Homo sapiens: one gene and its partners. The protein of the gene in region 2 purifies or fractionates together with the protein of the main gene of each other region. This does not show direct contact. Each region holds a gene or a part of one and is shown on either strand. Other genes may lie near its edges.

Evidence for each region.
Region 1: the proteins of SLC29A3 (region 2) and TMEM150C fractionate together in Homo sapiens (co-fractionation; one large-scale study listed by BioGRID). This does not show direct contact.
Region 3: the proteins of SLC29A3 (region 2) and GNPTAB purify together in Homo sapiens (affinity purification with mass spectrometry; one large-scale study listed by BioGRID and IntAct). This does not show direct contact.

What each region holds. Positions count from the first base shown.
Region 1 is NC_000004.12:82,559,066-82,563,503, reverse strand, and holds the start of TMEM150C (transmembrane protein 150C), read left to right. Parts: upstream 1-1,515; 5' UTR 1,516-1,598; intron 1,599-4,438. UniProt on the Homo sapiens protein: Nonselective cationic channel with high permeability to Ca(2+). Component of a mechanosensitive cation channel, confers mechanically activated (MA) currents with slow inactivation kinetics. May contribute to proprioception.
Region 2 is NC_000010.11:71,317,907-71,322,125, reverse strand, and holds the start of SLC29A3 (equilibrative nucleoside transporter 3), read right to left. Parts: upstream 2,868-4,219; 5' UTR 2,817-2,867; coding exon 2,816-2,816; exon of another isoform or gene 2,395-2,815; intron 1-2,394. UniProt on the Homo sapiens protein: Uniporter that mediates the facilitative transport of nucleoside across lysosomal and mitochondrial membranes. Functions as a non-electrogenic Na(+)-independent transporter.
Region 3 is NC_000012.12:101,757,906-101,761,545, reverse strand, and holds part of GNPTAB (N-acetylglucosamine-1-phosphotransferase subunits alpha/beta precursor), read left to right. Parts: intron 1-199; coding exon 200-419; intron 420-1,402; coding exon 1,403-1,516; intron 1,517-3,640. UniProt on the Homo sapiens protein: Catalyzes the formation of mannose 6-phosphate (M6P) markers on high mannose type oligosaccharides in the Golgi apparatus.

The DNA of each region.
Region 1 (4,438 bases), on a different chromosome or scaffold from region 2:
TCAAGGGAGTCTAGACTAAGATTCAGTTTTTGCTTTTGCTATTTTAATTGAATGGATAACAGTCCCACTCATTAAAATAAGGAAAACAAGAGAAGGCAAGATCCCTGGTCTCAGGAAGCTTACAGTCTAGTAGCCAGGAGAAAACAGTAACAAGAAATCAACATACAGAAAAAAAAAAAGAATCAATATACACATAGTAGACAATAATCACAAGAATTGTGGGGAAGGGAGAGTTCTGGAACCGAACGTTAATTGCAGAATTTGAATATGCTGAATTGGAGAAGATTCTTAGAAACACCTGGTTGGGCCGGGCGCGGTGGTTCACGCCTGTAATCCCAGCAGTTTGGGAGGCTGAGGCAGGCGGATCACTTGAGGCCAGGAGTTTTGAGACCAGCCTGGCCAACGTGGTGAAACCCCGCCTCTACTGAAAATACAAAAATTAATCGGGCATGGTGGCGGGCGCCTGTAATCCCAGCTACTCAGGAGGCTGAGGCGAGAGAATCGCTTGAACCCGAGAGGCAGAGGTTACAGTGAGCCGACATTGCGGCACTGCACTCCAGCCTGAGCGACAGAGCAAGACTCCGTCTCAAAAAAAAAAAAAAAAAGAAAGAAAAGAAAAGAAAAGAAAAAGAAAAAGAAAAAGAAAAAGAAAAAAAGGGAATGCCTGCTTGTGTAGAGACAGCAGTTTAAAGGAGACAGGTGTGCTACGGAAGCCCCCAAAAGAATAGAGGGCAGACTGACAAAGGCCGGTTGATAGAGAGCCACCTGTTGGAGGCCAGAGAGGTTGTGTTTGGAACCCAGGCTCATGATGAGCCTAAGATAAAAATGGCATTGATCCATGCTGCTGCTAGAGGTCACTGACATGGTGCCATGGGGTCCCATGGTAGGTTGGGGGTCCGGGATGGGGGAAGCTGTCAAAACGCTGATGAACACAGTTTATGACGGACTCAGACGAGACCCAGGGAGGAAAGCTGCAAGCTGGCGCTGGGAGGTCGGCCTTGGTGTCTGCTGTTCATTGCCAGGGTCCGAAGTTGGCTCTGTGTTTGTTCAATAGGATGGAAAAAAAAAAACCAAAAACCGCGGGACAGCGCTGAGTGGAGGAGAACTACATTCAGTCAATGGGCATGAAAATGAATTTTAGCTGCTTTGTGCAAAAACCCTAGGTGTGCGGACGAAAGAGAGCCAGGCAGAAGGTTACAACAGGTCAGGAATAAATAACCACCAGGCGGAGGATCCAAGATTCTGTCCTTCCTTTTGTTGGATGAGGAGCGCCAGGCAAACGCGTCCACAAAGGCTTCGGAAGGAAGCGGCTCGCCCGCCCACACCCGGCTCCTGCCCCGGGTGACTATTAGGGGCCCCGGGGGGGTGGCAGAAGCCCGAGACCCAGGGGATCAACTCTCCCCGAAGGCCTAGCAGCGGGGACCCCAGAATAAGTCGGGGGCGGGCCCCGGCGCGGCAGGAGGGGGCCGGGCGGGCGGGTGAGCAGATCCCACCCCTTCCTGAAGGAAGCGCCCTACCCGCCGCTACTGCTGCCGCCGCCGCCACCGCAGCAGGTCACAGCCCCTCGAGGCGACAGCGGCCCCGCCGCACCAGAGCAGGTAGGCGCGGCGCCCCCTCCCCTGCCTGGGCCCGTCGCGCAGCCAGGGGGCGTCCGGCCCGGCCCCGTGCGCAGCCCGCAGGCGGAGACCGGGGACGGCGGGGGCTGCAGCGCGGCTGGGGCGGCTGGGTCCGCCCGGCTGCGGGGCCCTGCTCGGCTGCGGCCCCCTCCCATAGCGTCCCGGGCGCGGGGCCGCCCGCCCGAGCCCTCCGCGGGCGCACGCTCCCCGGCAAGTCCAGGAGTCGGTGCCGGCTCTGCCCCGCGACCTGCGAACGCCCGAGCCGGCGCGCCTCGGTCCCCGCCGCCGCAGTGCCGCCAGCCAGCCCGCCCGCTGCGGCCCCGGCCCCGGCCCCGGCCCCGTCCTTTGACAGGTGTCCCCACCCGCCGCCCCATCATCTCGTTATCGGGTGGACTCGGGTGAGAAGCGACCCCAAGTTTGACCTCCCGGTCCCTGTGCCATTCTCCCTGCACTTTGCGGTTAGCCAGGTCAGGCTGGCTCGGGAAGCAGGGGATCTGGGAAGGAGGCACTAACTTGCTTTGCCCTGTGTACCGCCCTCCACTCTAAATGCACAGTCTTCCTTCCTTTCCTGGGCGCACACTTGGGAAGAAATGGGATTTTTGGTTTTTCGGCGGGAGGCCGTGGTAGGTGGGTTACCTAGGCTCTTTGGTAATCTGCTGCAATAAAAAAGTGATTAGCTTTGGGTTCTGGAGAGAGTCCTTGAGTGGTTTTCCCCTCCTTAAATGAATCAAATGGAGTATGAGAGGGTTTTCCCATTTTAAATTCATGCTCCTTTTTTCTCTACTCATTCCTTTCCTCCACCCCTACCCCCACAGCACTTTATGATGTCCCACACATTTCACTGATCTTTTTGGTCAGGTTTATTCCGGCCAGACCGCCTTTCACGGTTGGGCCAGGATTGTGACCGCATGTGGGAACATAGCTCAGGTAGAATGGAAGTCCATCTTCCCGAGTGAACCCACTCCGATGTCCTACATGCGAGGTCCTGTTGGGGAACCAGATATACCAATGCCATGTTGAAAAACAAAACCAAACAGTTATTGGATCTAAAACAATAACAAAGCCTAAATGGCAGGATCAGTTTCTGCATCTTTCTCTGCTTGAACCAAAGACATTTTAATAGTGCAGGGCTATAACTCCATTCTGGGCAGCAGTTCATCGAAAGGATAGTTGAGTGTGGATTTATAAACTCCATGGTAGCAGTCATTAAACTGACCTACTTAAAGTTTCCTATTTCAAGGAAAAATTGTTAGGCCCATATATGTGACCGATCAAAGAATTTTAGTCTCAGCTCTCATGTATCAAATCCCAAACTTTTTCTTGTATGTGTTCTAGAGACTCCATGTTTCCAGGATTAACTATAGCTGTCATCTATTAATGAGCTAGAAATGTGAGTTTAATCTTCAAGGCATAAGCGTAGGAATTTTAATGGTGTGTCCTTTATACATTATTTAATAAATGTTTTGCAAGTCCCCCAAGTTGGAAGCTCACAAACTGGACATGGTAAATAAAAGGGTAAAGAAGTTTTGCTAACAATAATGACTAGTTGATAGATGTTATGACATTCACAAATATATTAAAGTATTTGAAAAACACTTTAATGCATGTTTATTATAATCTGCCATTAGCTGAATGCAATCTGTTTGGATTATTTAAATTGGCATTTAAGTCTTCAGAGCAATTGCTTAATTCATGCATTTCTTACAAATACCTTTTCCATGTTGCTTTGTGGGGGGATAATTTGCTCTATGGAGTAATTTTTTTTTTTGCGTGAACACAATAATGCGTTCTATTTAGCCTTTGTTGTAGAACTACCACAATCATGTTCACAATGACCTTGCAGGGGTTTTTGGGCTCACTTTATCTGCTTTGCAATTGTCAAGAGAGAAGGCCCTTTGCTTTACACTCTTGTCTGTCTTCCTGCTTTGTCTCGCCTGTGACCCACACCTCTTTAGTACAGTGGGTCAGATTAGCAGGGCAGCCTGGAGTCATGAGAGAGGAAAAGCTAGCTGGACCCCGCAATCTCAGCCATTTGGTTTCACTGCAATCTGGCCATTTGGGATCAGTTCAGTAACCAATTAAGCAAGACAAGCACTGACAAGATAATGTATTACTTCTCAGTCATCCCCTTTCACAGAAGAATCTGTAACACTTAGAATCAGCACTACGGTGTGATTAGGTTCTGGTAAGGGTCCAATGAGATGTGTGCTGAAGTTCCCAAAACATTATAGGGTCCAAGTGTTATTGAATCCAGGTCTAAGTTCATGAAAAGCGTAGGACTAGACACAGGTGTGTAATAAGTGTGTCCCTACTTTTTTTGTTTGTTTGTTTTTGAGGCGGAGTCTCACTCTCTCGCCCAGGCTGGAGTGCAGTGGCACAATCTCAGCTCACTGCAACCTCCGCCTCTTGGGTTCAAGCGATTCTCCTGCCTCAGTCTCCCAAGTAGCTGGGATTACAGGCGTCCACCAGCATGCCTGGCTAATTTTTTTTTTTTTTTGTATTTTTAGTAGAGACGGGGTTTTACCATGTTGATCAGGCTGGTCTTGAATTCTTGACCTCAATTGAGCCACCCGCCTCGGCCTCCCAAAGTGCTGGGAATACAGCCAGGAGCCACTGTGCCCAGCCCCTGTCACATGGGTCCGTGTGAAGAGAGTCCACCAACAGGCTTTGTGTGAGCAACAAGGCTGTTTATTTCACCTGGGTGCATGTGGGCTGAGTCCGAAAAAGGAGTCAGCAAAGGGTGGTGGGATTATCATTAGTTTTTGTAGGTTTTGGGATAGGCGGTGGAGTTAGGAGCAATGTTTTGCAGGCAGGGGGTGGAT
Region 2 (4,219 bases):
ACTTCCCTGCATTCTTATTTGTGTCTCTTGAATTTTGAACTATGTGACTAGTTTATTACCGGTTCAAAAACAAAATTAAAAGTGTAAATTTAAAAAAATTCAAATTAAGTAATAATTGTTTAAAAAACTGGTAGTGTCCAGGGCTGCCTCCAGAAGCTGGTGTGTAGCCTCTGACAGTCCATTCCCATTTCATTTGTGAGGAAAGAGAGGTCCAAAGAACTGAAGGCCATAGGCCACGTAAATGGCCAAGCCTGGGTTTGCAGCTCCTGCCTGGGTCCCACCTCTGCTCATCACACCCTACAAGGAGCCAGCCACTTTCAATCTATGGTAGCGCCTAAGATAAATGGAAGAGCCTAGGCTGCCAGCAACTATTGCCTACATGGCCTTGGGCAAGTTACCACATTTCTGTGCCTCAATTTCCCCAAATGTAAACCCAGAGAAGCTGTTTTTATGATAGTTATGCAACTGCAACTGGCTGGCAATGCCTGGCCTATAAGCAGCTGTTGAACAAATGTCAGCATCTCCCTGGCATCCTGGGCCTGTCGCATGGCTGGCTGGCTGGCTGCTGAATTTGGCTGTAAGGTAGCATGCCTGCTTCTTTGCTCTACATAGCACCTAGGATGTGGCAGCAGCTTGATAAATGAGAAATGTCTCCAAAATGCTGAGGATGGGACACTTCAGAGTCCCTTCTGCAGTAGCCTCTTCCCCACCCAATAAACTAATAAATAAATGCATCTTGGTTTCTATAGGAGGCTAAGCCTAACTCAAAGCATCGTACCAAGAAGACTGGGGCCTTTATTCCCTGGTGGGATGGGAACACCTCCTCACATGGGTGCAGAACCTTATCCACTATTTCAGGAGAACCTCAGAGCATCCCTTGGAATTAGGCAGGGCAGAAAACATTGCCCCCTTTTTTCAGATGGAAAAACTGAGGTCTGGAAGGCACTTGCTATGTCCCACAAATAGAAAGAACTCCCAATAGCTAAACTTAAGTCCAGTGATCACAAATGCCAAGGTCTGTGCCTAACAGAGGTCACACTTGAGGCTGACAACAGCCTAATATATTAGGTACTACTCTAAGACCCATTTCACAGAGGGGTCTGAGGCTCAGAAAGGTTGAGTAACTTGCCCAGGGTCACATAACTAGTAGATGACAAGAGTGAAGTTACACAGCCAAGCAGACTGGGGCCCATGCTGGACTCCTCAGCACACCGGGGAGGACTGGCTGGGAATGGGAATCTGTGTCTGCTGGTTCCAAGTACAGGCATCCTTCCTGCAAGCCTTGAAGCCAGTGAGTCGGGAGGGGCCCAGGCACACTGCAGGCACCCTTGTCAATGTTTGCTGAATGAACGGACTCTGCACGACCAGGACATTCTCCCCTGCTGGGGTAGCATGTACCCTGGAGCCAGCAGGTGGGGGGCCACTGGATGCCCAAGTGCAATGCATCCAGCCAGCAAGTCTATTTTAAACTCCCCTGGTTAGCAGAGCCCCTCCCCAGCCTGGATTCGCATGGAGGCCAGCATTAACAAGCTCACTGTCTGGAAGCTCACTGTGTGGAAAATCGCTTTTTCCACATGCACCCACTCATAGAGGAAAAGCCATGTGAAGGCACAGCAAGAAGGAGGCTGTCTGCAAGCCAGGAAGAGAGCCCTCATCAGAAACCAAATCAACCAGCACCTTGATCTTGCCCTTCCCAGCCTCCAGATCCATGAGAAACAAATTTTGTTTAAGCCACCCAGTCTATGCTATTTTGTCTGGCACAAAATGGTACAAATGTAACAAGCTCACTTGTTACATTTTAAAAATTAGTGTTTAAAATGTAAAAAATAATCATGACCCACCCACATAGAACAAGAGAGAACCGGCAAGTGGTTCTTTCCAGAGGCTCCAGCTACCTGTGGGGGCGGCTAGAAGGTCCACCAGCCCTGTCACTCAGGACCACACCTGGCTAGGGCCCCCTTCTCAGTTCCTAGCGTCTATTTGTCAAGGCTTGACTGAGCTTCTGAAGAAGGAGCCAGGAATTTTCTCTAACCAGGGTCACAGGCCAGGGCACTGGAGTGAGCAAAGTCTTATTAGTCTTTATAAAAGCTAGCTGCTGGCTTCTGGATTAAAAAATAAAGAGAAAGGCAGGCAAGGAAGTGCCCAACCTTCCCCAAAACAAGCTGGCTGTGGCCTGGAACGTGCTCCTGGGTCACCTGCGGGAGCCCGGCCATGCACAGACAGACAGCCCCACACAAGGAGGCAGGCACTGCTGGGGCCGCGGCAAAACCTCATCTGGGCTGGGAAGCCTGGGTGCTGGTTCCAAGGAGGTTCCTGACTCTGGCTAGGTGGCTCGCCCCTCTGTGCCTCGATCTCCTGGGCTGTGAACCGGGGTGGGGAGCTGGTAGGGCTAACCTGTGGGAAGGCACTGGGAAGCGCAGGGCACCGCCTACTGGCCGCGGCAGAACCGGCTTTGCGGTGTAAACAGCCCCAGCCTCAGGCCCCGCAGCTGGGACCGAGAGAATCAGCCACCGTCTGGATACTTCGGGCCGACGGGTCCATACCAGGCCCCCACCATACAGGCGGTGAGGTCCAGTCTCAGGGAGGAGGAGGGGAGAGGATTTGGGGAAGAGAAGATAGAGACCCAGAAAGAGGGGTGGCAGAGAGCAAGGAGAGAGAGGAGGGACGGTGGGGAAGGGACCACGGATGGGGTAGGGTCCTGCGGCTCCCCTGGCAGCCCGCAGCCGCCCCCAGGGCCCGGGAGGGAGGTCGCTGAGCGCGAGTCTGGGGGCGGCCGGGACCGTAGCCGGAAGAGCCCGAGCCGGCCCGCACTTACTGTCGCCGCTGCGCCACGCCGCCGCTGCCTCCGGCGCACGGCCAGGACCACTGGGCTTGGCAGGCGGCAGGCGGGCTCCTCCCCCGGCCCCGCCCCGCCCCTCGCGGCAGCACGCCGCCGCTTCCCCGTTTGCAAACACGCTTTTTTCCTTTGTCTTCTGCCGGCGCGCCGGGGCTCCCCCTTCTGGCGCTGAGCTGGGGCCTGCGTGCGCCCATTTTATAGGAGAAAAAGTGAGTCACCCAGTCTTAAACGCACTGCCCATGCTTGCGATGGGTGCGCTGCGCATCAGGCCTTTTGGTTGCTGCTCCTTCTTTACCTTGGAGCCAGACCCCACTGTCTCAGACCTCCCCTTTAGCTACTATAACCTGCACCCCAGGACTCAAAGGAGCCCTCATCTTGTCCCCAGGCCGCTGCAGAGACCCCTCTCCAAAGGCCGCTTCTACCCTTACCGGCTGCCGCTGCTCTGGAGGTGAAGCGGGACCCACACCCGGACTGAACTGGGCCTCCCAGGCCAGGCAGCTATTTTCAGTAGACCCAGAACATGGCAGTCAGCAATTCCAGCCCTCACACTTGACCTCAGCCATAGCGTGTAACACACAGCTGCCGCGTGTTCTTTAAGAAAGCAGGGGCCGGGCGCGGTGGCTCACGCCTGTAATCCCAGCACTTTGGGAGGCCGAAGCAGGCGGATCACCTGAGGTCGGGAGTTTGAGACCAGCCTGGCCAACATGGCGAAACCTCGTCTCTACTGAAAATACAAAAGTAGCCGGGCATGGTGGTGCGTGCCAGTGATCCCAGCTATGTGGGAGGCTGAGGCAGGAGAATCGCTTGAACCCGGGAGGCGGAGATTTCAGTGAACCGAGATGGTGCCACTGCACTCCAGCCTGGAGCCTGGGCGACAGAGCAAGACTCCATCTCAAAAAAAAAAAAAAAAAAAAAAAGGCGGAAACCTTCCTGACTCCCGGTCCTGGCCCAGTTGGCCTATTCAGAGCGGGGATCTGGATGCTTCACAGGGCCTGAAGATCTGTGACCATGGATAGTAAATTCTTGCAGTTGCCATCCCAGGGCTCAGGGGTGCCACAGAACCCATTGAGGCTGTCAGTGTGTGGACAGGTTCTCAGAACATCCCCACTCCCTGCCCCAGCCTCTCATTTTATAACCACCATTCCCCAAACACTGGCCTGATCATAAAAGTCTCGAGTACACATCCAGATTCTGGGGACCTCTCCCCAGGAGGGTTGCTGCCACTCCCCAATCCCTGAGGGTGGTGCTGTATCTGCTTTGTTTGCTCTTCCCTCATCGTGGGCACATAATTTGTGTTCAATAAATACCTGGATTAATACAACCCATCACTCAGGGGGTGCAGAATGGGGATCCAGAATGGATCTATTTAACAAGCTCCACCAG
Region 3 (3,640 bases), on a different chromosome or scaffold from region 2:
TGAGTTGTTTGCTTGTGTTCAGAACTAAGGCTACTTGAAATGTGCATATTTACCATGCTAAATTTATAGCTCTAATATTTGATGACTAATATGTTAAAGGTATTATCTAAGTGAGAAAGAAAAAAGTCCATCTCTGCAAATGTTAGATACGGTACATACTTTGAATATCCAGAGTTTGTAATATGTTATATTTGGACAGGTTCCCTGAAGAATTTGACAAGACGTCATTTCACAAAGTGCGCCATTCTGAGGATATGCAGTTTGCCTTCTCTTATTTTTATTATCTCATGAGTGCAGTGCAGCCACTGAATATATCTCAAGTCTTTGATGAAGTTGATACAGATCAATCTGGTGTCTTGTCTGACAGAGAAATCCGAACACTGGCTACCAGAATTCACGAACTGCCGTTAAGTTTGCAGGTGTTGTATTGTCTTATTCTAAACTTTTTGATGTTTTAAATGAGAATTTAATTCTGGTCAGGCGCAGTGGCTCACACCTGTAATCCCAGCACTTTGGGATGCTGAGGCAGCTGAGCTCAGGAGTTCGAGACCAACCTGGGCAACACGGTGAAACCCCGTCTCTACTAAAAATACAAAAAATTAGCCGGATGTGGTGGCATGCGCCTGTCATTCCAGCTACTTGGGAGGCTGAGACAGGAGAAACGCTTCACCCTGGGAGGTGGAGGTTGCAGTGAGCCAAGATTGCGCCACTGCACTCCAGCCTGGGCAACAGAGTGAGACTCTGTCTCAAAAAAAAAAAAAAAAGAAAAGAAAATTTTAATTCTGACCATGTCTCTTTTTCCCCTACGTATTTTAATTTATTGCAAGTAAAAATAATTCTTAATATTTACTGTGGGTATTCATAGCTAGTCTGTTTTAGTGCTAGAATTATAACCAAATTTGGGGTTTGTATTTTATGAAATTACTTTTTGCAGGTTTTCAGTAGGGATTGATCTTGTATTGTCTGGAAAAGAGCCAGACCATACCTGCATATGAGATTCTTGTGGTATATTCATTCTAGGACTTCAGGTGTGGCTAGCTGGAGATCTCAGCTAGCCCCTCCTTCATGGCATCCTCTAGTCCCAGGAGTAGGAAACTCACTAATGGAGGTGCCCAGATGAATCTAGCTGCAGGGCATGATTTCTCCTGAGCCCTGGACCACCTTGTGTAAATGGGTATCTCAGAGGCCAGAATGTTCTTTGAGATGAAGATGAAATATTTTTGTTGGCATTGTCTCATTCTGCTCTTCTTAGAGTGCCTTTATCTTAAGAATCATATAGTCAGACTCTCTTTGAAGATAGCATTTAAACCATTTTTGGAAGCTTTCACTTAATTTTTATTTTTAAAACCACAGTCATTACTTACAATGCGCATAACAGATTTATCATCTTTTTCTTTGTTAGGATTTGACAGGTCTGGAACACATGCTAATAAATTGCTCAAAAATGCTTCCTGCTGATATCACGCAGCTAAATAATATTCCACCAACTCAGGAATCCTACTATGATCCCAACCTGGTAAGTGGAATGGGTTACTTTTATGTACAACAGAAAGTACATCCTTATCAAGTGTTACTTACAGCATTTCTGTATAGCACTTCAGAACTAGCAGCAGGCTCTATGGTTTTATATGTCTTTGTTGCAAAACAGTAGCACAGGTAATCCGAATCATTCATAGCTTGCTTTGGAATCTTACTGTTCACCCCATAGATGCGTAATTTGGATTTGTTGCTTATATTCCATAAGCGGATGTCCTGTTTACTAAGGGTGACAGAAAATAGCCCCAGAGTATTCTCATTGGCCAGAGAGAACAATCCTGAGGTTTAACCATCAAGGAAATATTCATCACATGGAATATCATCGTTCATCAAAGCTGAATTGCTTTAATGCTGGCACTTACTCCATTTTACCAGTAGGGGCAGTGGGTGATTAACACACGACTGCATTGGAATGTCATTTGGCTGAAATAATTGAAAGAGTATAGATTATAAGAGACATTTTAGTTTCAGAGAGGTTATAATGTGAAGAAAATCATAGAATTGATGAAATGAATATAATACAGCCATTAATCTGCTATTTTCTGTTAATTTTTTACTGATAAATGGAAAAATTCTTTTTTTTTTTTTTTAAGCTTTATTTTCAGGGCTCTTTTTCACAAAGTAATCTTTTTTTTTTTTTTTTTTTTGAGACGGAGTCTCGCTCTTTCACCCAGGCCGGAGTGCAGTGGCGCTATCTTGGCTCACTGCAAGCTCCGCCTTCCGGGTTCACGCCATTCTCCTGCCTCAGCCTCCTGAGTAGCTGGGACTACAGGCGCCCGCCACCACGCCCGGCTAATTTTTTGTATTTTTAGTAGAGACGGGGTTTCACCGTGTTAGCCAGGATGGTCTCAATCTCCTGACCTTGTGATACGCCTGCCTTAGCATCCCAAAGTGCCGGGATTACAGGCGTGAGCCACTGCACCCAGCGAAAAATTCTTATATAATAAAATTAGGTGGAGAAAATAATGGGTACTACCATATAGACAGTATGAGTTGAACTATAAAAATCCTCCAAGTACATATACAACACACATACCCCAAAAGACAACAGAAATGACAGTAGGTTAAATCACAGGTAGTTTTTAATATCCTTTTTGTACACTAGAGTTTTTCATATTTTCTACAATGAGTAGATTTTGCTTTCATAATCAGAATGAAGTGGTATTTTTAAAAAATTACGATCTTGCAAATCTTCAAGCCATGTATAAATAATGACTGCAGATAGGACACCTCCTCCCTCATGAGGAGACACAGTGTGACAAGTGGCAGCCATTGGTGAAAGAGGTCAGCATAGCAGCCATCAGAGCACATAGTATGAGTGTTGCCTATCACGTGTAGATTAGTTTAGCATATGGCATGGGTTAGTATATGGATATGTGCCACTTAAAAGCCAATTCTCTAAATGTGCTAAGACTTAACATTACCAAATTAATAAAGTTGAGATAAATAGAGGAGTAAGACCTGGTATCAGCCTTAAAGGAACTTGCTCTAGTGGGATTAGCAGATAGGAATCAGCAGGTCAAGAATGAGACTAGGGCTGGGCACGGTGGCACGTGCCTATAGTCTCAACACTTTGGGAGGCCAAGGTGGGCGGATCACCTGAGGTCAGGAATTCAAGACCAGCCTGGCCAACATGGTGAAACCCCTTCTATACTAAAAAATACAAAAATTGGCCGGGTGCGATGGCTCATGCCTTTAATCCCAGCACTTTGGGAGGCCAAGGCGGGCGGATCACTTGAGGTCAGGAGTTCGAGACCAGCCTAGCTAACATGGTGAAACCCTGTATCTACTAAAAATACAAAAATGAGTTGGGTGTGGTGGCGGGTTCCTGTAATCCCAGCTACTCGGGAAACTGAGACAGGAGAATCACTTGAACCCGAGAGGTGGAAGTTGCAGTAAGCTGAGATCGCGCCACTGCACTCCAGCCTGGGCGATAGAGTGAGACTCCGTCTCAAAAAAAAAAAAAAAAAAATGAGACTATGAGACTATTTGTGGGTCGGGAATTCACCAGACGCCTCACACAGAGCTGGTACGCAGTCAGGCTGATAACAGAAGAGCAGCTCGTCTGTGTACTTCAGCAGTTTATTTGGGGTTTTTGCCATGA